3 separate regions of the Homo sapiens genome follow, and regions 2 and 3 are each linked to region 1. Evidence: fine-mapped expression QTL. A gene starts in region 1. Each other region holds a variant in brackets. All regions are shown on one strand. Distances are from middle to middle.

Evidence for each region. PIP is the estimated chance that this variant, and not a neighbour inherited with it, causes the effect.
Region 2: its variant is the best candidate, but not a certain one, in a credible set for the expression of ARHGAP6 in skeletal muscle (FUSION, PIP 0.53).
Region 3: its variant is the best candidate, but not a certain one, in a credible set for the expression of ARHGAP6 in whole blood (TOPMed, PIP 0.71).

What each region holds. Positions count from the first base shown.
Region 1 is chrX:11,661,433-11,671,967 of GRCh38, reverse strand. It overlaps ARHGAP6 (Rho GTPase activating protein 6), which reads left to right and starts at 6,048. Exons shown (of 13, transcript NM_013427.3): 1 at 6,048-7,727. The coding sequence starts at 7,140.
Region 2 is chrX:11,410,185-11,420,719 of GRCh38, reverse strand. All of the region lies in intron 1 of ARHGAP6 (Rho GTPase activating protein 6), which reads left to right. It overlaps LOC124905246 (a long non-coding RNA gene), which reads right to left and starts at 3,505. Exons shown (of 2, transcript XR_007068392.1): 1 at 1-3,505. The variant C/T (reference allele first, on the strand shown) is at 5,032.
Region 3 is chrX:11,422,160-11,432,694 of GRCh38, reverse strand. All of the region lies in intron 1 of ARHGAP6 (Rho GTPase activating protein 6), which reads left to right. LOC124905246 (a long non-coding RNA gene) reads right to left here. Exons shown (of 2, transcript XR_007068392.1): 1 at 6,060-10,535. Among named protein-coding and RNA genes, the nearest start is that of MIR548AX, 110 kb to the right of the region's middle. The variant C/T (reference allele first, on the strand shown) is at 5,592.

The sequences.
Region 1 (10,535 bases):
AGCAGGAGACAGGATTTCTAATCCATCACTTTTCCTTTGGAAATGAAACACTGATAAGCATTCATTAGCCATTCTCTTGTCTTCTTTTAAAATTCTTTGGGATTGCTTTTTGCTCAATGACTTCCTTGGGTTTTATTAAACTGTTTGAAAGAAGGAGAACCAAGCTGTGGCAATAAGAAATACAAAATTTTCCTAGGGCTGGCATGACAAACTACCACACACTGGGTGGCTTTTTAAAAAAAAAACCAGCTTATTCTCTTACAATTCTGGAGGCTAGAAGTCAAAAGTCAAGGTGTCAGCAGGGTTGGTTCCTTCTGGAGGCTCTAAGGAAAAATCTGTTCCGCCTCTCTCCTAGCCTCTAGTGGTTACTGGCAATCTTTGGCGGTTTTTTGGCTTGTAGCTGTATCACTCTAATTTCTGCTTCTGTCTTCACATGGTCTTCTTCTGTGCACACGCATGTGTCTGTATTCCATTTGCCTTCTCCTTTCTCTCATAAAGACACTAGTTATTGGATTTAGGACCCATCTAATTCAGTCTGACTTAATCTTAATTTGATTACTTGTGCAAAAACCCGGTTTTCAAATAAGGTCCCATTCACATGTACCAGGGATTAGGACTTGAATATGCCTTTTAGATGAACACACTTCAACCCACTACAAGAACTGAAAAAGCTCTGTTCTCTATTTTGTCCTCCCTCCCTCATGCTCTTCTTCCCTCCTTCCCTTTTTATATTGGCCAAAGGCACTACTCAACCATGAACATAGCAAAACTCAAATTGTCAATGTTCATTGAACGTTAATAAAAGCATACACTGGAGGTGATAGGAATGTTCTGTATATTGATCGTGGTAGTGGTTTCATGGGTATACACAACTGCCAAAATTCATTTATATAGCTTATTGTATGTAGATTCTCAGTAAAGTTGATGTTAATATATATGTATGTGTCTGTATGTACCCTAGGCATAGTACCAGTTGTTTTATTTTCTTCTTTCCCTTCCATACCCCATCCTACCTTGTCACCAGAGAAACATGTTAGGCAAAATAGGTCCTCCTGTTTCCATTCAATATAGAAAAGTGAAGATTCGGGGGAAAAATTAACATTTCATAGGCAATGAAACCTCATGTTATTTGGTTGCTTTTTAAATTGGGAAATATTGATGAATGCTTAGATTATGAACAATTTAGGGTAATTAATAAAGTATCTATTAAAATTGTTTACATTATTACAGAATTCTTCATCCTCAAAAGTAGTTCTGAGACATATGCTACAGAAGATTTTAAAAATTAGTTTAAGTAGCTAGTACAGCTGAATTATATACCAGGTTCAGATAAATTTAACTTATTTTGAGATTCTAAGTACACTTTCACCACAAAGATAGAACAAAGAATGCCACTAGCACACAGTGTGTGTTCAAAAATGTTTATCAACCAAAACTGAATTTGGCTTTCAGCCAATTTATATTTCTAAAAGTCTCCTGAGATCAAGATTCAAAGCCTAAAGCAAAAGGGATGATGGTCATACATTTAGGATTTGATATTGGAAGATTCGTTCACATGCCACAGGTAGAGTAACCACTGTTTGGTTCAGGAGTTGCCCCTGTGATCCTGCTGAGCACATCTACACTGCAACTTGGTTTAAGATTCTTATACAGCCTTGTTTTTCACTTGCCCTGCTAACTTGGGCAAGTGAAAATAGGATGGTTAACATTTAGAAATAGTGTACCCCGACCAGGCGTGGTGGCTCATGCCTGTAATCCCAGCACTTTGGGAGGCCGAGGCAGGAGGATCACTTGAGGCCAGGACTTTGAGACCAGGCTGGCCAACATGGTGAAAACCCATCTCTACTAAAAATACAAAAATTAGCCGGGCATGGTGGCAGGTGCCTGTGATCCCAGCTACTGAGGAGGCTGAGGAAGGAGAATCGCTTGAACCCGGGAGGTGGAGATTGCAGTGAGCCAAGATGGCGCCACTGCCCTCCAGCCTGGGCCACAGAGTGAAACTGTATTTAAAAAAAAAAAAAAAAGAAGAAAAAAATAGTGTACTCATACCTGCTCAAGAAATAAACATGTAAGCGAAAAGGCAGAAAATGTGCCTATGCCAAACTCCTGCTTTTTTAAGTCTAGAAGATAAATATTAAACACTAGAAAACATAGAACATGTTGCTAATATTTGCACAGAAAATGAGAAAATGGACAATGTTGCAAGTGGATGTTCGTGTGTTCAATGCAGATGCTGACACAGATACAGTCGTTTTCTTTTACTGAATTTAATTTTTTAAGGTCACAATTGGTGAGAAATGGCAAAATTAGGCACACAGAGTGGGGAAAAACTGGGAAAGATGAATAAGAATAGTCATTTGGGTTTCCGAATATAACGTCAGAAAAAAAAATTTCACAGGTCTGGATATCAACTAGAGGAATATTAAAACCTCAAGTGTGTACCTGGAGGGTTCATGGTTCCAATTCTGGGCTATGTGAAATTGATCCAAAATATTGAGCCAAAAACCTTGCCTGTTGGTATATAAATGTAATAGAAGACAAAAATTTCCTGTACTCAAAGACTCTAGGTTTACCTCCACTGACGTTTGTCGATTGTAATTTAAGTGCTTTGGCAGCTGGCATAGGAATCTAAAGAAACATTTTTAGTTCAGGCATGGGGAAGTTGGGCTATTTAATGCAATTTGCATTCTTAAGCCTTGTAAAATTTCTCCACATATCTCTCATGTATTCCATGCATGTCACACAGATTTAAATGATGCTTCTTTTTCATGTTTCAGGAGCTTGGAGACAGAACCCGGACTTTTATGGGCAAGTGAGATGCTGTGAACTGTTTACCCACTAAGAACATAGAAATGATATCGGGGGATCATGATCAGTTTGAGAGACATGGGCAGGATGAAATGAAAATCAACAATGCTAAAAGTTGGGAGCCAATCAGATAGAAGTCTGAAATATTATATGACACTCAATCAGAAAGTTCAGTGTGATTTGAGACTGTTTAAGCAATGGGATTATATAACAAACAAGAGCAAAATAGGATGCCCTAACCTGGAATATTGGACCTCAGGACTGAAAAACAAAAGCAACTGGAGGGAGTCCAGAAAAGATCATCTACAGTGATGGTTTTAAAGCAAAATATGAACTTTATAGTGTAGCCAAACCACAGAGTCAGACCCAAAGGGCATGATAAAAATCTACAAATAGCTTTGGGGTCTAAACACCAAGGATAAAGAGGAATTTTGGCTGGAGATATGAAAAGCTTCAAGGGATAAAGTTAAGGAAAAGGAAATTTAGGTTAAGCATCAGAATATATCCTTTGATAGTAAGATGTGTGTGTTTGTAGAACAGTCTCTCAAGGGAATAGAAAGAATACTGATGAGTTTTCTAGGATCTCTGATAAGAGGATAGCTTGATGTCAGTCCAAGGATTCTAGAACTTCCATTGGAATATTCTTGTGCCATGACCAGATGGAATAGATAGCATAAGATGTTTTTTAAATCCTAGATGTCTACAATAATTATCATTGGGAATGAATAGTGAACAGAATGTTCTGCTCTTTAATGAAAGGTATCCCAAGTCTTTGATTAACTTTGTCTCTGAGGAAAAAATTAACAAATATAGGCACTATTTTCAATATCAAATGCCCTAATAGAGAAGCAAAGCAAAGTCTTAGAAACCTGCTTTTGAAAGCATATACATTAAAACTATTTATTTCTTGACTACCAATTATAATGCTTCTGAAGCTAGCTGATGAATTGTAAGAAGGATTCTGGGAAGCAATGTAACAAAACCAGCCATTTTTTGAAATTGGTAACCAAAACCCATAGATCTTCCTTAACTGAATTTGGCATAACCTGACAGTTGATCAGAAAGGCCAATGTGAGTTGAGTCTATATAAACAAAGAGAATATATAACAAACAAGAGTTAAATAGAATGCCTTAAATAGGAATGAATGAATCCACCATAAGCCACTATGACTGCAAGGTAAACCTAATAGCAGTCAGGTTGAAAATCAAAATAGTTTTAAAAAAATCCAAAAAAATTCTTACAAAGTCTTTCTAGAAGAACATCAACATCCCCTGCCCCAGGTATTAAAAGCACACATACTTACACTGAGTTTTTAAAAGGAGCCCCAGTCTAATTTGATTAATATTTAAAACAATTTATTCACTGTTCCCAACAATGACACAAGTTTCCAGTTTCCTGGAGGGTCAGGAACACTTGGAAACTAGATGATGAATTAACTGGCATGTGTGTGTTCCAAGCCCTAGGAGTGCTAATAGAAGAATCCCTCTGCTGGTTGGCTCTCCAACACCCATGAGCAAGAATGTATGCCCTTGTGCCTGGGGGCATTCATACTAGCCTATACAGTCATGGCAGGGGTTCATTTGCTACCCCATGGTTATCATATGGGGTTAGAGAAATATATAAATCATCAAATACAATCATCAAGTTGCTCACCCCCCTTGAGTTATAAGTGATTCTGTGAAGTGACTCTGTTAACCATCTACCCCGAATGCCAAACTCCACTGAGGCATAACCATGCAATGAGGCATAACCATGCATTCGTATCCCAGTGGTAGAGACATTAAGTGTTTCCATTACCAGTGATAAATTACAGTTTTGTTACTAAAGAAAGGGCAGACAAGACCCACACACTTTTACTTCTAATGTGACTTGTATGAGGAGGGAAGAAAGCCAATGCCAACAAGCCCCCAAATGTAACTTGGCCTGGGTGTAGTTAGGCAGGGGAGCAAGAGCTCTTTTTAAACACTGTGCCTGTCAGCAGCACACCTGATTGACAGCCGCTGAAAATACTTAAGAAGCTCAGGGTGAGAAGAGATGGACAGCGATGGGGGATGGGAAACTAGAATCGAACTCTGTCTTCAGACAGCAGATAGCTCATTAAAGCTACCGGAAAAAAAATCTCTAAGGGTGCAGTCTGTTCGGCTGCGTTTACAAAAAACGAGTACAGCCAAGACCTGGGAGCCCGACGCCCTTTGTGGAGACAACGAATTCTCCTAATTAGATTTCATGACGTACCTCCTCCAAAATAGCTGAACACCTAGGAACACCAAACACGCTTTTCAAAGAGTCTAAGTAAATTAACTTTTCCCCTGAATATGTCATAGGGAATAAAGGAAGTCTTCCAGAATCAAACTTGGACAATTCTGGTAGATATGCAAGAGGAATGTTCGTGTCCAACATCTGTATTTATAATTTCATTGTATTTTTTCTCCAAAATAAAAGAAATGGTAGAGTCACCTTTACATTTATATAAAATTATCTTCATCCCTAAGTGATAAAAGAGGACACAAACACAAAGTAGACATTTCCAACATTCTGTCTGCTCCCTGCTGAGATGGTTGTAAGTTGCATTGCAAAGCTTAACTGTTACATCAAAAAGCCCTCCAAGAGGGCGAGGCTTTGCGCTTTATAGATTCCAGGGGTCCGACAGCGGGAGAAGCTGCTTTCAGACTCATCTCCTTGCCGGGAAGATTGATTTCCCCAGCGTTCTCCAGCTTCCCAGGACTGTGGCCACCGCGCTGAGACCCGAGGCGTCCCAGAGCGGGACGCGGAGACAGATCGCTTTGTGAGCGCCAATCTCTGCAGCCTCTGGGCTGAAGCTGCGCCCGGCGCCTGCCCCCTACCCGGCCTCACTCACCCCTCCTCCTAGAGCACGTTTCCGCACGTGCTCAGGACCCCTTCCACGGCAAAGGCTCCTCCCCCTCCACTTTCTTAGTAGGTCTCCATCTCCAGCTCATTCATCGGCAGCCACTGCTTTTAGACAGTTTCCTATCTATCCTTCCTTTTTAAAAACAAAAACAGCCGGGACAGGGCGGGGTGGGGGGGCGCGGGGAGAAAAGGCAGGAGATTTAACTCCAACTTCAGAGCAATCGTCCCCGGCTGCCCATCTGACACCAGTGGGTGGGGTGCAATCTGACACTTCCCTTCCTTTCCAGAAACGTGAGTGGAGCTGGCGCGACCCTTGATCTGGGGGTGGGGAGACGGGGGAGAAGGTCCGCACTTCCGTCCTCACGACTTTCTCCCCAGGAGACCCGGTATCAGTGGCGAGCTGCCTTCTCTCCTCGCCGCTTGCAGGTTTGGCGCCTGGAAAACTCTTCACGTTCTGCTTTCTCCTGCTCCTGGCTCCGCCCCAGCTCCAGCCCCGGCATTCCTCCAGCTCTACACGTCCTGGCCGCCCCCTTCCCGCTGCCTCTAGAGCGAGCGTACGGGGTCATCTCCGCGTCTGCCCTGGGCCCAAGGCTGGGCTGCGAATAGCGTGTTCCTCTCCGGCGGAACACACACACCCGGCCTTGGGGCTGTCTCCTGAGCTCCCTCCTCCACGGAGAGCGCTGAGCGCCGCCGGGAATTCCATCCCACCGTGGGCACGCAGTCTTTGGAGGTCCCGGGCGCAGCACGCTCGGTGTCCCCACACTGCAGCAAGACAGAGACCCCGCGGGAACCTTGAGCTTGGAACAACCCTTGAGCCTCTGCAGTCGGAAGAGTGGGCGCAGCAGCCCAGCGGAGGCCAGGCGCGCAACCTCGGGCGCCGGGGCAAGGAGAGAGTGCAGGGAGGCGCAGCTCAGGCGCCCGGCTCAGGAGCGGGAGGAAGTTCTCGCGGCGCCGGGAGCGCGGTGGACGCGCCCTGGGCGCACGCCCAGGCAGCCTTCTCCCTGGCCCTCGGGACTGTCCTCGGGCCGCAAGGAGGAGCTTGCTGGAGTCTTAGAGGCCATCCAGAGCCAGCGAGCAGGAGCGCTGCGTCTCCCGCCTCAGCTAGGAAGGGGGAGTGGCGCTGGCAGGCTGGAGCTGGGAACCCAGCGAGCGCCTGACCTTCCTCCTCCTCTTCCTGACCCTCTTCGCGTCTTGGGCTCCGGAGGAAGGTTCTAGCGGCTGCAGGAGGTCCCCAGACCCATTTTCCTAGAAGGCTGGTGATGGATCTGCTGCTCCTGCCGCCGCCGGGGCACTTGGAGCGCACCGGCGGCGCGTGAGCTGGGCTTTGCTCTCCACTGCCCTGGGCAAACCCCGGGCCAGCCCCGCCTGGCACCTTTGCCTGAGTCCCTTTCGGTTCCCGACCCAAAGCCACCAGCGTCCAGGGAGGGAGGAGGAGGTGGTCCTCAGGTGCAGCCCCGCCGAGATGTCCGCGCAGAGCCTGCTCCACAGCGTCTTCTCCTGTTCCTCGCCCGCTTCAAGTAGCGCGGCCTCGGCCAAGGGCTTCTCCAAGAGGAAGCTGCGCCAGACCCGCAGCCTGGACCCGGCCCTGATCGGCGGCTGCGGGAGCGACGAGGCGGGCGCGGAGGGCAGTGCGCGGGGAGCCACGGCGGGCCGCCTCTACTCCCCATCACTCCCAGCCGAGAGTCTCGGCCCTCGCTTGGCGTCCTCTTCCCGGGGTCCGCCCCCCAGGGCCACCAGGCTACCGCCTCCTGGACCTCTTTGCTCGTCCTTCTCCACACCCAGCACCCCGCAGGAGAAGTCACCATCCGGCAGCTTTCACTTTGACTATGAGGTTCCCCTGGGTCGCGGCGGCCTCAAGAAGAGCATGGCCTGGGACCTGCCTTCTGTCCTGGCCGGGCCAGCCAGTAGCCGAAGCGCTTCCAGCATCCTCTGTTCATCCGGGGGAGGCCCCAATGGCATCTTCGCTTCTCCTAGGAGGTGGCTCCAGCAGAGGAAGTTCCAGTCCCCACCCGACAGTCGCGGGCACCCCTACGTCGTGTGGAAATCCGAGGTAGGGACCAGCGCTGCGCGTCCCACGGCCCAAGGAGGAGGCCCCCAGGCAGTTTCAGGAGACCGCCTTTAATTCCATTACATTTACAGAGCAAGGCACCCACTAAGGGGTTTCCGTGGTGTGGGTTTTCCTCTTCTACTTGCTAAATGGTGCCTGGAAATGGGATGTCCCTAGTGGCCACCCGCTTGTGCGTCTTGTAGGACTTGTTGGCTCTACTTTGGAGCAGTCGTGGGAGCTGGAGAAAGAGATGGTGTTCTGGTTTTCTGTTAGTGCTGCAGGCAATTTCAAAGGGTCACCTTATCCCTTCACCCAATGTTGATATTTTTTCCAACTCAAATATCTATTGCTAAGCTGTTTGTAACGATTGGATGAAATATATTTTGAAATATGTCTGCCATCTTGTTCTGTAGAGAATTCAGAAACATTATTTTGGAGGGTGTCATTGACTGTATGAGTGAGTGTGTGTGTGTGTTTGGGTGGCAGGGGGGACAAGAATTCTCTAGTTTTCACCTTTTCTTTCCCTGAAGGGGCAATTTCAGAAATCTATGGTACTGAGTATTAGTTTAACCTAGGAGAAGAAGAAAATCTCTGTGTAGGGGTGTGAAAGATCATGGAAATATGCTGATGCCTAAATTCCATTTAGAACAATTAGTAGTTTAGTGAAGAATCAACAATACATAGGGGACTCAGAGGGAGCTATCAGATACCCTTAAAATATTTGCTGTCCAGTTAAGAAAAATAGTGAATTGACCTATTGGGAAACTGTCACTGATGGGCGCTTTGAAAATAACACACTTTCAGAGAATAGTAATTGTTTTAAAAATGAACAGCCCCTATCCCCTTCGGTCCACAAACTCTATAGGTTTGCCTTGGATCTGTTTCCATAAGGGAAGGGAGATTCCATCAGTTGTAATTTAATATTTTAAAGTACAGTTAGCATTACAGAAATGAAATGAAATACCATGTAATTGCTGGAGATTTAGGCTAAATACACAACCAAGGAAAACCGTTTGAAAATAGCATCTGAGATCATACTCAGCTGTGTTAATGTGAGATAACTGTTAGACTTTGGCTTTAGTAAACCGCCTTAGAAAAATAAGCATCATTTATCAGAATTATTAGCATCACATATTATTAATGTTAGTTACTGTGTCAAAGTAACTGAGGCTGTTAGGTGTTGGGGGTGCAGATTACAAAAAACTAACAAATTTTGCTAGGTCTTTTGCCCATTTTCTTGAGAAAGATAGGCAGTAGAAAGGAAAGTCGAGGCAGAGGGCAAGATGTTACCTCCAAACCAGGGAACTCAAGATTAGAAAGAGCATCAAAAATTGAAATGTTGAATTTCTCTTGGTCTTTAGGAGGGGCTGGATTCTCATTGTATTTCAGAAGCACACATTATCAGATTAATCTGTACAAGTTGAGAGAAAGAGAAATACAAAAGCAAGCCAGCATTTTGGATTAGCTAGCTAACATTCGTGCTTAAAACTAATTGCATCATTAAGAACATTTCTGCTTTTCTTAGCAACCATATACATACTTGGAATATAGTATACAGATGCTGCTCATTACTGTTATGACCAAAAGGCATGTGGCTGTAGATGATTTCACTTGTTGCAAATTATCTTCTTATCCATTAGCATCTCATAATTAATGGACAAGGATCTGAACTGCAGTGATACTGGGTGGCTTCTATTCCATACAGTGGGCAGTCTGCACAAAACTCATCTACCATGATTTTTACCTTTTCATGGTGGTTAAAACTAAGGATGTAGCCATCTAGCAAAAAGCCAGAATTTTCTCATAGAATATGTGTGTATGTGTGTGTGTGTGTGTTGGAAATTCCTTTATGCTTGAGGCAGGCATGGAGTGATTGGATAGAACTCTAGCATGTAGCTCCAACCCTGGTTTTGTTTAATAAAGGCCAAGATATCCTAACATAACCCTTGGATCTCTAATTTAATGGCCTGGATTACCTTTCAAAGGTTTAACGCCCTGGAACCCTCTGAAAAACCAAGAAAATGTATCCTATTGGGCACTGCCTGTCCTTTTCACTTGCAGGCAAGCTGAGTCTTTGGTCCTTAAAGGAGAGTCTTTACTAATGACATCAAAATGTCAGCCAATGAGCATCTTGCAAGGCTGCTTAGAGGCCCTGGAGGGAATATCTGGTTCATATAGATTTGGTTCTTGAACTTTTCTGGTTGCTCTGGCTCAGGGTTTCTCAGCCTTGGCACTATTGACATTTGAAGCTGAATGATTCTTTGCTACAGAGCTGTCCTGGGTATTGCGGGGTATTTAGCAGCACCCCTGGCCTCTTCCCACTAGATGCGAGTAGCACTCCTCCAGACCAGTGTGACAACAAACAATGTCTCTAGACACTGCTGAATATCCTCTGGGGATCAAAATCGCCCTAACTGAGAACTGCTGCGTTAGTGAGGTTGCCCATAGTACCCCATGCTGGCCATCAAGAGAGTGCCCACAGAAGTGTTTACAGCTGGCCTAAACTTTGTTGGCGCCTTCGTTTGATTCCAAAACCACGAGGATCCCTCTGGAGTCATGTACCCCTTACAGTCTGTTCAAATTTTCTATTTCTCTTCCATTGAATCCATATGAAATCCTAAGAATTCACCTTCAGGTTTAGCCATTGATGGATCTCATCCATTTCCCACTTTGTTCTTTCAGAATCTTGTCTGCTTTTAACGTAAATTGTCCATACAACAGCCCCTGCTCCCAAGACTCTCACAAATGCCTGCAGCTTTGTTACTTGTGCTCGTTCAAAGCTTACAAATGACCATTTTATGGCCTAAACCT
Region 2 (10,535 bases), 250 kb after region 1:
TGACACAGACCGGCCTGCTCTGGGGAAAAGGGAAGAGTTGCTGAAAGAAAAGCCAAAGGAAAGAGGGAGGGAAACAGTGGCTCCCAGCGTTTCTCTCTCAATCACATCAGGGTTCAAAATCTCCTGAGCAGCCCAGGGTGGCAGGCGGGTTTGTGGCCTACCTGTTCTCCCATTGAATTGCAGAGCCCGTTCTTAACTCCTGGCCATGTCACTGCATGTCCATTAGCATGGTCTGTTTTAGATTGTGAGTTACGAGATGATGGGGAGGGTGGGGATAGATTTAACGGTCTTGGGTGCTTGCCACATTTTGGACTGAGACCACTGTTTACAAACACAATTAATTAATTTAATATCTTTTAATGTACTTTCTGTTCTCAGGTTTTCTCATTCTAACCTTATTTTCAAAAGACCAATTTTTCTGATTTATTTTATTCTTAAATATACCCTGAATACTTAAAAACGTAAAGGTAGATCCAGTGATGCAACAAGGACTCCCACCAGTCATTATGTGGTACTGCTTTCACTATCTTTGTGGTGACTACTTGGATGTGAATATGGGATACTTTTCAATACAAGAAACATATACAAAATATAAGCCAAATTTTTTCATTCAAATACAGTTACTGTTACTGAAGACTCTTCCACTTCCAATTTCCTTGAAAGATGCCATGACTCTTTCAAATGAAAACCTGTCAGGCTTGTTCTCCTCTTCTCTTCGGATACTTGTCATTTTCTTAGAACTTTTCTAACATAAAAAAAAATCTTATAGTAAAATTTGAGTGTTTGGGATGTCAGCTAAATTAGATTTCTGAAATAACAATTTTAGAAGAATTTGGAGTTGTGGCTTTAGAGAAAAGTTGCCATGGCAACAGCAACAGAAGTAGTTTAGATGAATAAACTTTTAACATATTTTTGAATGACCCCTTTCTGCAGTTGACTGAAATATCTGGTAAAGAAATGTATAAGCCAGTCCAAGTGCAATACAGAGGCTAAAAGCATCTCAGCACTTTGTGGAGCACGTGGGCTCCATATTTGCCAAGCATCTCTGTGCCAGGTGGGTGCCTCTCCACATGGGCACAAATCCCTGGACATTGCTCTAGGTTCCTAGCTTGGTGATGCCATGTTAATTAGACCCACAGATGAATAATAGATTAGCAAGGGTATGGAACATTGAGTTTGCTAGAATGATTTGAAAATGGTAACATAACACATAGTATTATTTCTGTGGGTATCTATGCACATGACTTTCAACAGTTCCATTCATGTTAAGATGCCATTTCGATGGTCTGAGCAAAATGCAAAACACGGTCTTAACTTTTATCTCAAAAGTTAAGGCATCCTCCCACATTAGCTACTGATTCACAGTCAAGGGCTTTGTGTCGATCAGGATCCAAACAGGAAACAGATAAATCACTCAAAAGGCTTAATTTGAGGAATGAACTACGCCAATGTGTTGACAGGTTTAAAGGAACCAACGGTGAGTGGTGAAGCACCCAGCAATTAGCAACACTGAGAAGCTGTTACCAGGGAGGGACCAGCGTTACCAGAGCCCACTGACTTGCAGCCTTGGCTGGAAGGGACCCTGGCAATGTGTCCAGAGAAGACTCCAGCAAGGGCAAAATACAGAGAAGCAGGGATAGACTGGAACAGTAAATACTCTGACTTCTTGGTCTCCCTGTTCTCCATCTCCTTCTGGGCCCAAGCCCAGCCAATCCAGTGAGACCAGCACAGAGAAGGGCAGAACATTTTATTTCCTATTTTTGTTGAGGGCTGGCGGGAGGGGGGGTCGGTGTTGACAAACATAAAATATCATTACAAGCATTTTCAGTCTTGTTTGGGGTTTGCTTACATTTATGAAAGACCTTAAATTCCTAAGTATATAGAAGTCTCCCAAATTGCTTCAAATGTCTCTTTCTTCCACACTGTAGATTATTTTGACTACCACATTTAAAGTACTCAGGTGCTATGCCAGCTCCATCCATACGTGGTGTGCTTGCTTTTAAGGATTTTTATATCACAAACCTATTAAAGCATTTAGTAGAGAGTGATATATTCTACGTATATTTTGTCATTAATCTAATATTGGAAAGTTCATTACTTTAAAGTGCCCTGGTCTAAATTTATTAGTATTTATTAATATAATTCAAAATATGTAAATGTATTAATATAGACTACAATTAGATTTTTTTTCCCTCTAAGCCCATTAGGATAGTCTAATGTAATTTCCTTGCCAAACAAAGAAAAAGGAAGATTTGGTTTGGCTTTTTTTCTGGTTGATGGGTAAAGGGTTTTAACTCTTAAAATTGCACATCAACACAAATGGTCTAACCTGTGCTTGACTGAAAGGCAATTTTCATTTATCTCTGCTGGTCAAGGAATGGTTGCAGCTAAGTATTGCAGTTAAACCGCCCTGTACCCCAGTAAATTTTAGCAGAGAGAAAACTCTCATTTCAACCTGGACTGCAGAAAGTACCTCTTATTCTTAAGTTAGTTCCTCCTTGAGTCTTCTGTGCACCCACTTTCATAAATATTCATCCTGCTTCTTTGGAGACCATATTCACAACAGAACCAGAAAATCCAAAAGGACGCAGACCAGAACCAGGGACTATATTGTGTGTGACTCAATGCTTGGCCATTTATAGCATGTGCCTGATGCTTAGTATGTACTTGAGTGTCAATGAAATTAATCAGTGATTTAAAGCTCTCAGAAATATTTAGTCTGACTTAGAGTAATAATAATAGCCAATATTTATTGAATGCTCTCTATGAGTCCTGCTTATTCTACATATATTATCTCACTTAATCCTTAAAATAACCCTGTGAGATAGGTCCTATTATCCTCATTTAAAAGATGAGGAAACCAAAGCTCTGACCTTATGTCTGTTTCAGGGCCACACAGCTAGTACGTAGTGGGGCTGGGACTCAAATCCTTGTCTCTTAATTTGATTGCCAAGTCTGCATGCTTGAATCACTGTGCAGTGGGTGATTGTTGACATGCCATTGGCTTAAGGTGATACCTTTGAGGTAATACTTTTTAAAGCCTTTCATTTTGTAATAATTGAAGACTTATAAGAACTTGCAAAAATAGTACTGAGAGGTCCCATGTACCCCTTATCTAGCTTCTCTCAATGGTAGCATCTTATTTACACAATATCAAAACCATGAAGCTGACATTGGGACAATCCTATTAACTAGACTACAGATTCTCATTTTACCAGGTTTTTACATGCATTCTTTTATGTATGTATATATGCGTGCAGTTCTGTGCAATTTTATTACCTGTACAGACTGGCATATCCACTACCGCATTCAAAATACACAGCTGGTCCATCACCGCAAAAGCACTCCCCCCATGCTACCCCTTTGTATTCACATCCACCCTACTCCTGCCCTCATCCTGAATCTGGGCTACCACTGAACTGTCTCCATAAGATGACACATTTTAAATTCTTCCTCCTGTTCTTGCTGCACGGTGGAAACATTCCTGTCTCCATTGATTATTTACACCCAAAGCATCCATAAACATAACAGAAGAAAGTATGGTGAATTGATAGGGAGATCAGAGAGGATTTTGGTGTGTCCTTGTTGTCAGCAATGCATATATATGTATGTGTATATATATATATATATATATATATATATATATATATATATATATATGTACACACCCATATAAAGAACATCCTGTTTGTTATTTTTAGTTGAGGGTTTGAGGGTTGTGGTAATTTTATAATTCCAACACCTGTGTTTTCACTAGCAAACTGCTTTTGATTGAAACACGGCAGAGTTTATCTCCTGCGTAAATGCGGCACACTCCCTCTTTGCATGGCTGTTCTAACGGCACATCCATTTCTGGACCGACAACCGCGTGACTGAACTTGCAGCAGCCTGGAAAAGGTACATGAGAGCTGGCACTCTGCCCTTGTCAGGGTTTTCCAAAAGTATTTACGAACAAGGATAAACACGAGTCCTGCATGGATTTGAGGTAGCCATGACCGAGCTGGGCTCTGGGCAGCACAACAGTTACGTAAACCTTGGCATTCATGGCACACATGCATTTTTATTCATCCATTTCAAAGGGAGTGGCCGTTCGTAGACCTCTCTTGGGGAAAGGTTTGAACCTTATCATGATGAACTGGTTCAAAAAATCCTTAATAGCTGTTTTTATTCAGGATTGCTGAAGAGTGAAACCTTATCATCGGGACACAGTTAGAAAGACTTCCTGCATTTATTTGGTGCTCACTATTTTAAAAAAGGTGTCCAAACTGCTGATGCTGTCTGATTCTGCAAACATAGGCAAACTTACTAGATACTTCACATATTTCAGTTTTACCATATGATTATGACTTGATATTTATTAGAAAGGAAGAACATTTTTTAAATGTAGTCATACTGAGCCCAACTCTTGCTTTTAATGCAATTTAATTGCATTAAAATTAGACAGGTAATGTCACCATTACCACGCAGATACTTTGTATCACCCATTGCAAACATCTGTAAAGGATCAAAGGCTCATGTAGTGAGTCTAAGAGGAAACTTGGTTTGAGAATGAGGCCTTCCATGATATTTCTGTGCTGCCGCAGGTGGGGGAGGGCACATTTTTATTTAAGGCGTCATTAGAAAGGAATGAAATATAGAACTCCTAGCATGCATACATATATGCACATAGACACACAAAATCGTACTTTACCTTATAGCTGTGTTGTCTAAAATGTAGAAGTGTGTTTGTATCAGTTAGCTATCACCACACTAATGCTGTGTGACAAGCTACTCTGACATTCAGTGGCATAAAAAAACCATCACGGATCCTAGTGGATCTGTGGGTCGGTTAGGGTTGGCTTAGCTAGACAGAGCTCAGCTGTTTGACCAGAGGCCAAAGTGTCAAGGCTCTTCTGTCAATTCTGTCCCATGTGTATCTATCCTGGGGCCCAGGCTGGCAGCATCTACCCAAAGAAGTTCAGCAATGACAAAGGCACAAGATGGCAAGTGGGATCAACTGAAGACTCTTGAGACGTAGGCAGGAATTTGACA[C/T]ACTATTGTCTCCACCCACCTGCTACTGGCCACAGCAAGTCACATGTAAAAGCCTAACTTCAGTGTGTGGGGAAATGCACTCCTTCCATGATGGGGCTGTGGTAAGGATGTGAAGCAACGAGGGATGAAGAGATGGGGGAATTGATTCACTTTACCTCAGTGTTTAATCAGTTTATCCTGAGAATGCCAATACTTTTAAGAAGGTACAAATCTATCCTGATTTTCTTTTTCTGTTTCGTCAGTGAGTTCTTTCTGTCATGGATGTCAATATCTATGTCATCATGACCCAATTAAATGACAAAAGCAGGGTTTTGAGGTTCTCTCACTGATATCAGTTCCCATAAATCCACAGTGATTGGAGAAAGACTGAGTAGACATTAAGGGAATATAGAAATAGACTGAATGATATTAACATTTAAACAGAATTGCGACACTCGTCCCTGTTTCCTTGTGTGTAGCAGCTCTGGTTCCTCAAACTATCAAAAAGAAACCATTCAGAATCACCTCCCTGGATACTTTTTAAAATTTATTTTTAATTGACAATTAAAAATTAAATATATTTATGATGTACAATATGTTTTGAAATATGTATGCATTGTGGAATGGCTAAATTGAGATAATCAACATATGCATTACTTCACATACTTATTTTTTGTGGTGAGAACACTTAAAATCTATTGTCTTAGCAGTTTTGAAGTATATAATACATTGTTATTAACTATAGTCACCATGTTGAACAAGGAATATGAACTTACTCCTCCTGCCTAACTAAAATTTTGTATCCTTGACCAACATCTCCCTGGAGATTTTTTATCTGCTTCTTTTTACTAGTATCACTTTTAAAAGATTTCTGAATTTAGCTACTGTTTCAAAACCTAGAAGAAATTAAGGATGAGGTGATTTATGAATGAAAGAAAAATATATTAATCCTTTAGGCCAAACACACCAGAGGCAACGTTTGGCAATTAAATTATTAATTTGATCAATTTTGACATGTAAATGGATAAGCTACATTAAAAGCAATGCACTTAAAGTACACACACAGAATCTTGTCTCATTGAAGTTTGAACACCTTCACCATATCTTCCTCTATTATATCAACTTGATTGAACAGTTGCCAAGGCCTGTTTTTTTTTCCAGTTTGCTCTGTACGTGATCATATCTAGTAGACTGTCTGCCATATTACGGTAGCTCAGTTCTTAAATCAGGGGTCAACAAACTATGACCCACAGGCCAAATCCAGACAACTGCCTGCTTTTGTGTCTCCTATGAGCTAAGAATCAGTTTTACATTTTTAGATGGTTGAAAAAAATACCAAAAGAAGAATATCTTATGCCATGTGAACATTTTATGAAATACAGATTTTAGTGTTCATAAATAAAGTTTTATTAGAACACAGCCATGTGCATTTATTGACATATTGTCTTTGGCTGCTTTCACACTATGATAGCAGAGTTCAGTGGTTGGTTGCAATGAACTGCATGGCTTGCAAAGCCTAAAATGTTTACTCTTTGGCCATTTACAGAAAAAGTTTGCCTATCTCTAGTCTAATGCTATGTCTCAAATTACCACAGACACTGTAGATAGGTCTACGTTACATCAGTATGAAGGCAAAAGAAAGGGACACATATTGTTGGTATGGAGGGGAGTGGTGGGTATATTTCAGATAAGGGCAAAATGTCAGTGAACATTCATTGATTCACCAGTATATGTGCAGAACTGGGTATGTGTATAGCGCTAAGGGAAACATTTTTTTAAAAGGTTAGTCTCCAATTTTTACTCTAAGGCTTCCTCTTGAATAAGAAGATGCATCTGCAAGTATAGTGTCTGAAAACTATTTGCCTTGTCCAATCTCTACATCACTGGAAAATGCTTTAAAAATTTTAAGTTAAAAATAGTATATGTTTCATGGTTTATTTTGCAATTATTCTAGGCAGAATAATTTTCATAAACATTGCCATTCTTACCAGTGCGAAAGGGAGACTTAAACTCAGAAAAGTGTCATTTACTCATGGGTTTAAAATGCTAGTTCTTCTTGTGGATGTATCTGAGATTTTTATGTTACTGTATCCAGAACTCCCTCAGAGGCAAGAACATAAAGGGCCTCCAGGAGCTGACTCTAAAAACACCAGTCTCCTGTTCTTTAAACTCCGTGTGGCTTGCTGAGCGCTCAGCCACAAGAGCTGGGGGTGAGCCATCTCTGGGTCCTGCCAATGCAGCCAGTGTTGTGCCAAAGGAAGTAGCCCTGTCTTACACTTTGTGATGTTTCTTTTGGCTGACTCTTCCACATTCTTGTGACCCTTTGAATGAAGACGTCTTAACAGCTTTAGCTCTACACCATGGCCTCCCGCTATCATTTCCTGCAGGTCTTGTCTTAGAGCTCAGCAGCTTCCTGAGTAAATGTCACCTTGGTGTCTTCTAAGAGGGTCTCACTGAGGTTCAAAAAACCATGGCTTCCACCAGATTGAAAGCATAATGTCCACGAGTCTTTGTCTCACTGGACTGTGCAGGAGGATGAACCTGGAATTCTTTTTGGTTTTGAAGCAACGAGTAGGTCGGGGCACAGAACAGAGAACCAGGAAAATGTCTCTGAGGGTGGAAATCAAATGACCCCAGAGGAGGAAATTCCAGTTGAAAATAGAAACCGGGTCAGCACCCTTGTGAGAGCCACAGCATCCTAGACTTGGAAAGTGGCAACCTGTGGCCTGTGAAGGCTGCTATCAGAAGTCCATGGACTGGCCTGAAAAGAGTGTTGTGTTTTATGGCAATCCAAATTGAAACAGGATTTATCTAGCTTCACAGATGTGGTCTGCTGGAGAGTTATGTGGAAATGACTCAATGTCATATATTTGTCACATTGACCAAGGGTTATTTCTTTAGTAGGAAAAGACAATTCGGGAACAATATTTTCTTGAGAACTATGATATATGCATACATGATGGTGGTAGCTTCCAAATTACCATGGTACGAATTCTCTCCATTGATGGTTAAGGGGAAAAGGGTTATTTTGTTGCAGCTGTACAATATCCCTTCATTAATTCAATGAAAAGATCTCAATTAATGATTATTCCTTAAAATGACAGATCTATAATTAACTTGGAAATGCCCACAATATAATCATGTTGCTATGAAAAGTGATGGTTTTTAAACTAGTCTAACATAATTCCGGATTATCTTTAAAGAGAATTTAATGTCTAGAAAAGTTTCTGTAGCTCTAAAAAGCTGCAGAATAGGATGTCATTTTGGGAAGTTTCCCTTGCTTAATTCAGCTTATGATCCAAATTTGAAGGAGACCAGTAGTCCAGGAGTTTTGTCTGCAAATAAAATGAACAATATGTGTTCTAAAGTGTTTTGGATTTTTGTTTTTGGTGGGAGGCTGGTTAGTCATGGAGCAGGGTAGAATTAGTAGCTTTTGGCTTTAATCAGGAAAATATCACATGGTGTTAAAGTGCTGTCTATTAATTGGTTATTATAAACTTTAAAATGTATATTATGGTGGAGAAACTTCTCATTTGGGGGACTGTTTTTCATAGCATTTGTGGCAACTTTTATTTATTACTTAAAAATTTTAAACATCACAAACACTGAAATTCTGGGGTAGAGATAGGATTTTCTTAAAGGAGAGATATATTTTTGATATATCTTTTTCTATCTGTGTGTGAAAGTGTAATGCCTTCCAGAAATCCATAGGAACAGAAAATAGATTAGTGGTTTCCTGGGGCTGTGGTTGGGAAAGGAGAGTGACTGTCAGTGAGCCCCAGGGATGTTATTGAAGTGACAAAAATGTTCTCAAATTGGATTGTGGTGATGGTTATCCAACGCAGTAAGTTTACAGGTGAAGTTTATAGAATGTAAATTACATCTCAATGAAGTTGTTTTAGAGTATGAGTTAATAAGAGAATCAAAAAGTACTTATTTACAAATGAAGGATTAAAATCAATATTATACAATCAAACTTGAAATACGTTAGTAATGGTATATATATATTTTTTCCTTTCTAGGCCACCTCTTAGAAAGTTCAAAATCTAATAAATGAGGGGAAACACCTTTTTATTTTTTGCTAGTTGTTCAGGATTCAGTGATCTGACCAAGCACCCATTTGTAGTTAAGACATAAACATCCCACTGAACTAGACACCAGACTTCTAAGAAACTCGACTTTCTAAAATCAAAAGCAAAAACATATCTGAGCAGCCACCAGGACTGTCTATATAATTTGATAAAAATGTTGCAAAACTGAATTAATAGTTATGGTTACACAATTTGGTACATTTACTAAAATATCATTGAATTGTACACATAAAATGCATAAATTTTATGCTGTATCAATTATACCAAAATAAAGTTATCTTCCTATAAATATATGTTCATTTGTTTATATATTTATGTTTATTATATATGCATATATAAATCTAACGTAAACATATAAATAAATGTTTATATATTTCATATATATTTGTATATTTTATATATATATATATATATATATATATATATATATATATAAATAATGTCTGCCAGTGACACAGGCCCAATATCTATATTCCACATAATGAAGTCATAGCAACAGGGCCATAATCTTATCTTATTCATCTTATTTTGGGATATTTTGGCCTTAACCATGTGACACTGAAATTTGCTTGGGACTGTTGAAAGCATTCCCCTTGTTTAAAGAGGTTCTACTAAAAACAACTTTTCACCCATTTTTTTGTTTGTTTGTTTCTCTCTTTTTATTTTTTCTAGCACAGTGGTAACACCCTATTCCCACTTTAACTTCTTTTCCTTCCTTCTTTTTTGAAAATTTTCTAACTTGTATTTATAATTCTCTTGCTCATCAAGGTCATCCAGACACTATGGTTCTGTTCATGTGGAATTTTAGTCTCATAGCAATCAGTAAGACTGTCTTGCGAGAGCCGGAAATGTGTTCATTAACTTGAGAGGCCTTCCTGCTAAGTGGTCAAACATGGAAACACAAAGTTATGTAGGGACATTTTGCTCTGTAAACTCAAGGTATAGCATCATTTGTTTAAACCCTCTCTATTGAGATGTAATTCACATGTGATACAATTCACCCATTTAAAGTGTACAGTTCAGTGGGTTTTAGTACATTCACGGAGTTGTACAACCATCACCACTAGCTAATTTTAGAATATTTTTGTTTCCCCAAAAGAAACTCCATGCCACTGGCAGTCACTCTCTTTTTATCTCCTCCACCAATGCTACTCTGAGCCCCTGACAACCATTAATTTGCTTTTTGTCTCTAGATTTGCCTGTTCTTGAGATTTTCCATAAATGGAATCATACAATACGTGGTCCTTTGTGACTGTCTCCTTTCACTGAGTGTGTTGTCGAGGTTCACCCATGTTGCAGCATGTATTAGTACTTCATTCCTTTTTATCACCATATAATATTTCATCATATGGAAACATGATACTTTGCTTATTCATTCATCAAGTGATGGACATTTGTGGTGTTTTCAGTTTTTCTGCTTTTATGAATAATGCT
Region 3 (10,535 bases), 240 kb after region 1:
CCTTTCTGATCCTGGAGTTTGATTTCCTTAATTTCATCTTTGTAGCCCCATGAAAAAGACTTAAAAAAGAGACAACTCTAAACTGTGTTCAGTCTTCATATAAACTGTGTTCAGTCTGTTTATACAATAGTGTAAATAAAGATTCTAATTAATACAGTTTGGAAAACTGTTAGGCATTGTCTAGTAAAGTTGAAGATATGCATGCCTATGACCCAGCAATTATATTCCTGGGTTTGGACCCTATAAAAATGCATGCACATATGCACAAGGAGATATGTATAATGATGTTCAAGCAGTGTGGTTTTCAGTGGTCCAAGATTGAAAAGGACATAAATGTCCATCAACAGTTACAAAGATAAATAGTAATAAACACATATAATGGAGTACTAGACAGCAATTGGAATGAACAAACAACAGCTACATACAGCAAACATGGATGAACCTCAGAAACGGAATGTTGAGCAAAAGAAGTCAGCTATAATAAAAACATACTTATGAATCTGTTTACATAAAGTTAGGAAACAGGCAACACTAAGCTCTAATATTTATGGATGCCTGACTTCCTAAAAGGCAGTGGATTTCAACCAGGGGTGATTATGCCTTTCCCCACTCCCTGGGGGACATCTGCAATATCTAGAGTCATCTTTGGTTGCCACAATTGGCGTAGGGGGAATAATACTGGCATGTAGTGGGTAGAGGCTGGGGATGATGCAAAACATTCTGCAATGTCCAGCCTCTACCATAAAGAATGATTGGTTCCCAAATGTCAAGAGTGCTGGGGTTGAGAAACCCTGCTGTAAAAGGGAAGTGAAGAAGTGAAGTCATGACAGTGTCTACCACTGGGATGGAGGAGGGAAATACAGCCAAGGGACATGGGGGTCTAGGGTACTAGCAATATTTTAATTTTTGACCTCAGTGAAGGTTAGACAGGTGAATGTTTTGTAACAATTCATTAAGCTGCACATTATATGCTATTGATTTTTCCATTTCAAAATGTTAAAAATACTCCAGGGGCTAGATTAACAGGACAATAGGATGGCATAGTGTGGGCACTGGGTTTGGGGGAGGGGATTCCCCATCTTAGAGGGTCTCATAGTAACTCTGTTAACAATGGTGGGGCTGGGCCTTCAAGAAGGGCCTGTCCTGCCATCTGAAGTGATTTTTAGTACTCAGATGGGCCCTCAGCTCTTCCTACACTCTGAAGTTGAATTTGCTTCCACAGATTTGGGTAAAGTTTTTCTGAAAAAAGTAATCACCCTTGCATTGGCATTAACTGTGGAAAATTTTAACTCAGCCTATAGGCAGGCAGAATAAATGCAAACAAGTATTTTAATTTAAATGCTCTGGCAGAAAGGGCAGCATTCAGTTCTGGAAATGCTGTAATGTTTAGGGACAGGAAGACATGGAAATTCCACAGTTAGCAGGGCACGTTTTCTCTTAAAGGTGATGCTAGTAGAGTAACTCATACAGATTATTTTTAAGTCCTCTCTGGGGTGAATGATAAACATCAGATAAATTTATTATTTTTTAAAAAAGAAAAACAAACAAAAAAGAACATTAGCCTAGCAGGCTCTTAACCAACAAATTGGATGAACTTCAGCCTCCTCTGAAGTGAGGTTTTATGTGCTTCTTGCTGCCTTTTTATCTCTCTCCATTACCCCAAAGGATCAAATGTGCATTTTAAAACCACATGCCATGTCAATATACAGTTTAGTTGACCTAGAACAATACCTGTGCATAGTATGCACTTAAAAATATTTATAAAGTGTGGAATGATAGACAATGGACACTCAGAAGGGCAGTGGGGTGGATGATGGTGAATTACTTAATGGGCACAATGTACATTCTTCTGGTGATGGATACCCTAAAAGCCCTGACTTCATCACCACACAATCTATCCATGTAATGAAATTACACTGTTACCCCATACATTTATACAAATTAAAATTTAAAATTTAAAATAATATTTGTTGAATAATGACCAAGTGAACAAATAACATGGGAAGGATACTTGGAAGTAGAGATATGCAAATAAGAAATTTTGATTAGAGTGGTGTTTTAAATATACCCTGAAATATATTTAAATGAAATAATGAATAATGTGTGAAATTCAAATTGTTTAAGATTGAACAGACTTCTTAGAGTTCTGCATGATCTTCTAGATCCTTTCTGGAGCTTTGAGCCTTACACAATTGGACTAAGAATTGAAGGAGGTGGATGATTCATTCCAAGGTGATTTAAGAGTCTTGCAGCATGAACTGATCATTTCTTTAGGTGCTTTGCCCAATCTCACAAACTCTTCAAACACAGAGAAAAAACAATCCTATTGCACTTGAACATTTTACTCCAACTTAGCTATGACACTTTAGCAATAAATAATGCTAGAAGGCAGAAGTCATTCCTAAAATGTAAGTACACAGTGTGGGGCTGATGGAGTATTTTTGGCTTACAAGAATGTCATTTAGTGACTTACTACATTTTTGAAAGAAAGAATACAAACCAAATCCAGGATGACCCAGTTTTAAGAGGTGACTTACTCAGGGGTAATGATCAAAAGGCTATGGTTAAGGTTTTAAGACCCAGGGATCCACCTTGTGTTGTTTAAATATATTCATAATTAAATAGTATTTGTAGGGAAAGGGATTTTTAGCTTCAGGGGCTTAAAGGCAAGCGTGATGGAAGAAAAAGTCCTAAGGCTGGAGTGTTCACCTTTATGAATAGACCACAGTGAAGTGAAAGTCCCTAAACTGGGGCTTGTCTAGGCCATTGAATTACATCTGTACACACGTGCCCCCATCAGGCTGCCCTGGCTGCAATTCTCTGAAAGATGCCAGATGGTGAAGCTCAAGCTGGTTCTCTGTCTTATTCTGAGGATCTTTGATGACTTTGCTCTAAAGGTTGCTTTTAGCAGCAGAACAGAGTGAGAGTAAAGAGGGAACTTTAGTGTGTCATTTTTCGAGCTCTGCCTGGACATGTCACAGAGCAAGGAAGGCCTCCAAGGTCAATGGGCATGCTCATTTCTCCTACAAAGCAGAAGAAAGGAGACTTGGGTAGATCAGGCTGTGGGAGAATGAAAGACTTGGGCAAATAGTTCAATTGACTTTCTCATAAGACAGGCAACACTGTTTGGAAGTTCCTGGGTTTGGCAAGGGATTGATTTTAAATTTATTTTTATTTTTATTTTTTATTTTTGCAGTATAAAATACATGTAGTGAAGGGTGTAAATTACACTAGTCTGAACTGTACTGCACAGTGAATGTTTACATATGGGTGTACTCTAGTAGCTGCCATACAGATCAAGATATAGATCATTTCCAGCACCCTAGAAGGTTCCCTTGTACCACCTTCCTAGTCAATACCACCTTCCCACTTTGGTAACCACTGTTATGACACCTATTACCATGGATTCCATTTGCCTATTGCACTTAAACATTTGAATTTCAGTTGCAGAATAAATAAGTGAAATCTTACAGTATGTACACTTGTGTCTGATTTCTTTCTCCCAACATAATGTTTGTGAGATTAATCCATTTGTTCTGTGCATCAGTAGCATTTTCCTTTTTATTGCTGAATAGTATTCCATCATGTGCACAGACTACAGTTGGTTTGTCATGCATCAGTTGGTGTACATTTGGATCGCTTTTATTTGGGGCAATTATGCCTCAACACAGTATGAGCATTCTGGTATATGATGAGATTATTGTACTCTGTATATCTAGGGGTGGAATTTGCTGGATTGGAAGGTAGGCCTATGATTGACTTTAGCAGATATAACCATCCAGTTTTCCAGGTGGATAAACTGTCATGGGACTATCTAATGGTAGATTCCTCAGGCCACTTGCACCCCTGGCTTCACATTCCCACTGCTAATTATAATTATGCTGTGATTGTTTTAAAATATTACATGCCAGTGGATGGTTCATTCAACTAAATTGTAAGGGCTGAAATTCCGGGGCCACATCCAACTTTCCTCCCCTCTCCTCCCCTCTCCTCTTACACAGAGCAAGTGGAGAGTCATTCAGCCGGTTCAGTACAGTGGGACCCTGACAAACTGGCACAAGCTACCCCCAAGCACATCTTCCACTTTGTAGCCACCCCTCTGGGGCTTGCATTGATTGATTCATGAGTCTGGAGTCTCTACTCTGGCCCCAGGCCTGGCCTTCCTCTGGGCTCAACTTGTGGGAGGCTGGACGTAAATTACAGAAGGACAAGGCTGTGGAGGGAACTCGCTGATCTTCTCCAAGGTGTTTTAAAGTGCAGGTTTCCATGAGGGGATTTCAGAGCAGAGGCCAGTTTTAAGGGTTATTGTGAACCTACAGAATGTGCCCTGCAAGCCCCCCTGGAACTCGGGTCACCCTAAGTGACCAGCATCCTGGGCAGCCTTGTCCCCGCAGCAGTTCTCCTGGGTAGCATGACTTGGTTCCTCTCAGTCCTGCCCTCCCCAAGGGTCCCCACAATTTGAGACTCTCACAGAAGAAGGCTTTCTAGAAAGGGAAACTCTGCCCTCCCAGGAGAAGGCTCTGAATCTCCTTCCACTGTCAGGCCCACACCTCCTTCAAAGTTAGTGAAAGTCTCTCTTTCTTGGAAACCCAAGTTCGCCTTCTCGCTGGCATTAAAGGCTTTGGCAGTCCCCGCCTCAGCAGCCGGGGTCCCACGGGTCCGGGGAGGGTGGGGTGGCAGGAGGCAGGCGTGCCGGCCAGCCTGACACCTGTCGTGGGCGCGTTCGGCCTCCGCAGCCCCCAACAGCTGTCAGCGGCGGCGGCCGCCGGAGGGACCCGCCAGGAGCGGAAGGAATTAAACGCCCGCCCATCGCATCAGACTCGGCCGCTCCCTCCTCCTCCTCCTCCTCCTCCTCCTCCTCCTCCTCCTCCTCCTCCTCTTCCCCCTCCCCCTTCGCGCCGCTGCCTTCTCCAGGTCCCCACCGGCTCCGCAGCGGCAGCGGGACGCTGTGCCAGGGGCGCTTTGCACAGCACTCGGCACGCACGGAGCAGGGCTCGCGCCCAGGGGCTGCCCCAGGATGGCAGTGAAGTGCGGGGAACTCAGAGAGACACCGTGACCCCAGGCTGAGCCCAAGGCGCGCCACTCCTCCCGGAGGCGACATGGGGCACCCGGTGTACCGCGGCGAGAAGCCCCAGCTGCACTACGCGGTGAGTGTCCTGACGCGTGCAGAGGACACAGGGGGCGCCACTGGGCCGCTCCGGGTGGGGACTGCGAGGGGCGATGGTAGTCGGGGCTCCCCACAGGTCCACGGCTGAGGGGGTGGCGGGTGGCCGGGTACGTCACCCCGAAGTGCCACCTGCTCACTAACTCAGTGGCGCTTCCCGAAATCTTTTAGAAGGTACAGGGGAGCCCCAACCCTGAATTCAGTGTTTCTTTGCCCCAACGCTGTGGTCACTGCATCTGGGACGGGGCTGGACTCCGCCACCACCTCGCTGACAAAGGCTGACAAATGGGGTTCCTGGGGTTAGGCCTAGGTCGCTCATTCAGCCTTCAGTCAGATATGTTGAAAGGACGAGAATAAGACTGGACAGGAGGCAGGGCCGCTTCATGATCTCAGTGTGCGGCGAGTGGATTTGCTGAAGAAATGCTGC[C/T]GGGAGCGTTGGGGTGCAGCCGTTTCACTCCTTAGAAAGGGAGTGCATTTCCCTCCTACTTTGTGGCGGGACAGAATGTTGCACATTATCATTAATGTTGCACGCTAATACAAGAGAATACCAGGGGCTCTTCTGTCGTACCTTCCCCCTCCCTTATGGTGGCTTCTGTTCTCCCTGTTGATACAAAGATTTACTGGGGACCTACTGTGTGCCAGGGACTGCGCTAGGTGCTGCAGGTACTGCAGGAAACACAACAGAGAGAAAGCTCATGGGATTTGCCTTCTTTGAAGAAGGAGTCAAGATTTTAAGGTTAACGACCGACCAAATCCAGATACTAGATGAGTATATTCTTTGAGAGAGAGAAAAGAAAGGAAAGAAGGAAAAAAGGAAAGTTGTTTCTGAGGAATGACTACTACTTCTGAAGATTTCAAATGCCCCCTCCAGGAAGGGGGCAGGGAGAAGGTTTACCTTATTCCAGTCTTCAGACATTGATTTTCCACGTGTGAGATGTGTCGTTTTGAGATGAGACACTGCAGTTGTTCTGTCATCTGCTAATTTACTGAGTTTTCCTTGAATTGATTTGCACTGTTGAGACTGGACGTTCTGACTGCCAACTTTAAAAATTGGAGAGAAGCAGGCAGAGAGTTGACAAGAATCATTAATATTTATAATCAGGCAAAGACAGTTAACTGTCTGGAATTCGTGTCTTCCAAAATCCAGTCCCCAACATAAAAAAAAAAAAAATTGTTTTTTTGAAGAAAGGAGTAGAGGTGGACAGGGGTGGTGGACTCAGGCATCCCGGAGCTGCTCCAGTTGGTTCCTGGTGTCACCTCGGGGCTCCTGGATTAATTGCAGGGCCATTGGGCAAATTGCACACCTCGTACACTTCGCTTTCCTCCACTGGAAAAATGAAGACCTGAATTAGGAAATTGTTAAGATACCTTCCCAGGCAAACGTTCCAGGAACCTGTAACAGCTCTTTCTCTGGTTTTTCTATAGTTACTTGTCTTGAAACACCAAATGAGATACTTGTAAGTTACTAATGCTCGTTCATCTGTCTTGGAGACACCGGTGGCTCAGTGATTTGCCTTTTAAAGTAGTTTAAAGGGTAACCACTTTTCAACAGAGGTTGCTTTACACTGAAGGAAGTAGAGTCTGTGCTCATTGTGCCCATTCAACATCTCCACCCCACCACCTTTTTGAACTGTGTGCTGGTACCCTTTGATTCATGATCTGAGGTCTTTGCCATTTGCAAGAGTGCGGGTGGGGGAGGAAAGGTGAGAACGGGCTCCTTAATTTTAAAAAAATCTATTCATTCAATGAATGGTTATTGCCTCAATTATGTAAATATATTACAAAAATATTTTAAAATTGTCATTTAATTAGGCTGTCTGATTCTTCTAAAATCATAAACTGAAGAGTCAAGCCGATGCTAATGTCCCCTCTTGGGGCTCTGAAGACTGCTGATGAAATAGCCCTTTATTCTAGTACAGATTATCATGTATGTATATTCTGGTTTAAGACTATAAAAAGGAAGATTCCAGAGGGAATTTGTTGGGATTCCAGGTTGGAATAAGTCACCCGGGCTCTCTGAAGTTTCCTATGCATACTTTAGGATGAGAAAGCAGCAGCTCTGAATCAGTCACGTGTCCAGAGAATGTTCTTTATTAAGTGCGACCCATTGTTTTTCATATTAGTATAACCCTTGGTGGTATAATATCTATTCTAACGCTGCACTTTTGTTTACTTCCCTCATTTGGGTTTTGATAATTCCAGAGCTTGTTTTGCCGTTTAGCACAAATATTCCACTTACTTTGCTCAACAGGGTTTTGTCCCACTGTGCATTTTCCTGTGATCTTGGGTTTTTTTTGGGTCTGTCTTCCTTGACATGAATGACCCTCCATGTGTCCTTAATACCTCCTGCCTCCTCTGAAATATAATTCGGGGATAAGTATGTAATGCTCTTCCTTCAGTGCTTTTTCGTTTGTCCAAGGTGAGACTGCATATAAGAGGTCAGTGGCTCACATTTGATTCATTCAATAAACATTTGTTGAATGCCTGTTGTGTTCCAGGTATTTGGTCAATTTTCCAAAGAGACAGTTAGATAGTGAAAATGTTAGGAGTTGCTATGGACATCTCACTCATCTTTTTAAATGGTCATAATGGTCACAGAGAGCAAAATGCAATTAACTAGACAAGAACATCCTCCATTTACATAAACAGACATTTTCAAAGTATAATACAACTGTCTTCTTGCTTTATCATCACACACAGAAAATAATGTGTGTTAGCAGCTAATGTTCTCCTCAAAAAATTTCCTCCTACAGTTTTCCCACGTTCAGATTATGGTGACTCCGTCCTTCCAGCTGGGTGTTGTCCTTGATGCCTTTTGGTGACTGAATCAGATTTACATTTTGAAATGATCCCAGTATGGAGTGAGGATGAGGAGGAGCTAGAGTGCATCCTGGTATTTGGGCCTGGGAGAGATTCGAGAAGATGACTGATGCTAGGGTGGCAGCTGGGTAGGAGGTTGAGAGCAGTTGGCATATTGGAGAGATGCTTAGAACATAGAACCTGTCAGACTTAGTTTGGATGGGATAAAGAGGTGATAGAGTATGAAGGATGAGGATGACATGAATGAATCAATGATTTTCTGGCAGCATTTCTAGAGAAGCTCTTGAAGTTTATATAATAAGCAAATAGTCATAATGATATTTCCCTCCTTGTTACTGTCTTATACAGATTGCAAAATATTTGAACACAGTCTAGGTCAATTTCAGTCTGAAATCCAATTGCTGCCTTATGCAGGTTTTCTGTTTCCTGATTGAAGAAATCTAAGCTCAGAACAGTAGAATTCAAGGCAGCACATGTGTCGCTGCTGACAGAACTGAGAGCTTTATCCAGGTGCCCTGATCCTGCAGTGCTCTTCTGAGTCATTTAGACAATGAGGATAGTCGAACCTAATCATCCCTCTGCGATCCACTTTGCCACAGTAATAAACCAACAACCAAATGTTGGACCTTCAGTGACTTAATGTGACTATCTGTATTGTCAAATTGCATGGCCAAATAGCTTTTAAATTTGACTAGTGTAGACAAAAACTAAAAATTTAAGTATCCATTAAGTTCAATGCAATATCTTTATGTCTTTCTGAAAGACACTAAAAAAAATCTGGATTAAAAGCTTGGCCTTGTGACTTACTGGGGACCTTAGGAGGCTCAAGCTCTTCTCTCCTGGTGCCCCAACCTGTCTTTACCCTCAAGTGGGGCAGAGAAAAGCAAATCAGTGTCCATTATACAGTCACCATCAGGAATCCCTGGACTGACATCATTCATTTCTCTCTCGCTGGCAGGTTGAAAACTTGCTGGGAGTAGTACTATGTGTGTCTTGTCCCTGCTGTCACCTGGACACCTAGCAGAGTGCTGGAAGCACAGTAGGTGCTCAGTAGAAATGTGTTGAATGACTTCATGAATCTAGTAGTTGAGACCTAGTTTTTGAGGTCCTAAGCTGCTCATTCTCCTTCCTTGTACTGGTCTAGTCTGAGCTCCTCTGCTGCTGATGTCACTTCCTGTTTGGTGTGGTCACTGCACCATCTGTGCTTTTGACCACAGCCTTGTAATCAGATGCTGACTCTGCCCTTGCTCCAGTTAACCCCTTCCTAAGGAACTCACCAGAAGTGCCAAGCTGCTTACCCTGACAGAGAACCTGTTTTCACATAGAATGGAAACTATGAAAGTTTCCACGTTTGTTCTCTATGAACATTCAATTTTCAAAGACTTTGAAGTCATTAAGTTTGCTTAATAATTGAGTGGTATTGAATACAGGATACTCTCTGGTAATTCTGAAGATGCCCAGAACTGGGCGCCGTTGCAGGCCTATGCTGATATGAATCAGTTATCATCCATCGGTGCTAACAGTGTAGACATCTTAGGAAACTCAGCAGAACTTATACTGACCTGTGGCATGGCCCAGAACTTACTTTTATAAAACCATTTTTATATTACTCTGGTTGTCATTTGTCTCCTCATAAAAGCAAAATTTTTTCAACTTACAAATATGTGAGAGATTATTGAATCCTCTTAATTGACACCTCTACTAATTGTAGATACCTTTTCTACTCCCACCCCCAACCTGGCATGCTTACTTTTCTGCTGCATGCAGAAATTTTCCTGGATGAGGCCTCTTTGGTGTGGAAGCCCCATCATCTTAGGAAGCTACATCTCCCCTCCTTCAAACCACTCATTAAGTACCACTACTAATTGATAAAAAATCAGATTCCTGTTGGATGTTGCATAGCAGACATCTCTGCCAATCATTTGAAAACAATTACCACCCTTTGCCTAGTCCTTTCTGGTGATGAACTTTTATTATTTACTTTTCCTGTTCCCACATTGTGATAACCCTGGACCACACACACATGACTCTCAACTTGGTTGTGAAATTATTGTCCAGTCATACAAAGTCTTCATTGGGTTCTTGATTCCTCACTTCCCTGTCACCTGTTTCATTCTCAGACTTTCCCATCTCAGTGAGTGGTTGGCTGTCCCTATGGCCAGTGCAATCTTTTTAAAAGGTAATGAAATAGTGACATTTCAGTGCTTAAGCTCTTTGGTTGGTTTCCATTCCACTTAGAATAATAGCTTCATCCATGACCTTGACCTTCCAAGTGCTCCTTACATGGTCTTCTCTGCCTCATACCACACCCCACTCCACAAGCTTATCATTGCCTGGCCACATCTGTGCCCTTTCTGTTCCTCAAATGCGACCAGTTCTTTTCTGCCCCAAGCCTTTGTACTTGCTGTCCCTTCTGCCTGGAATGTCCTCTGTGTGATAGGCTTTTTTTTTTTACATCCTTCAAATTGCAGGAAAAATGTCGCCTTTCCTGACTGCTTTCTCTGAAGTGTTTCTGAGCCCACTCAGTTACCCTGGATCATATCACACTAGC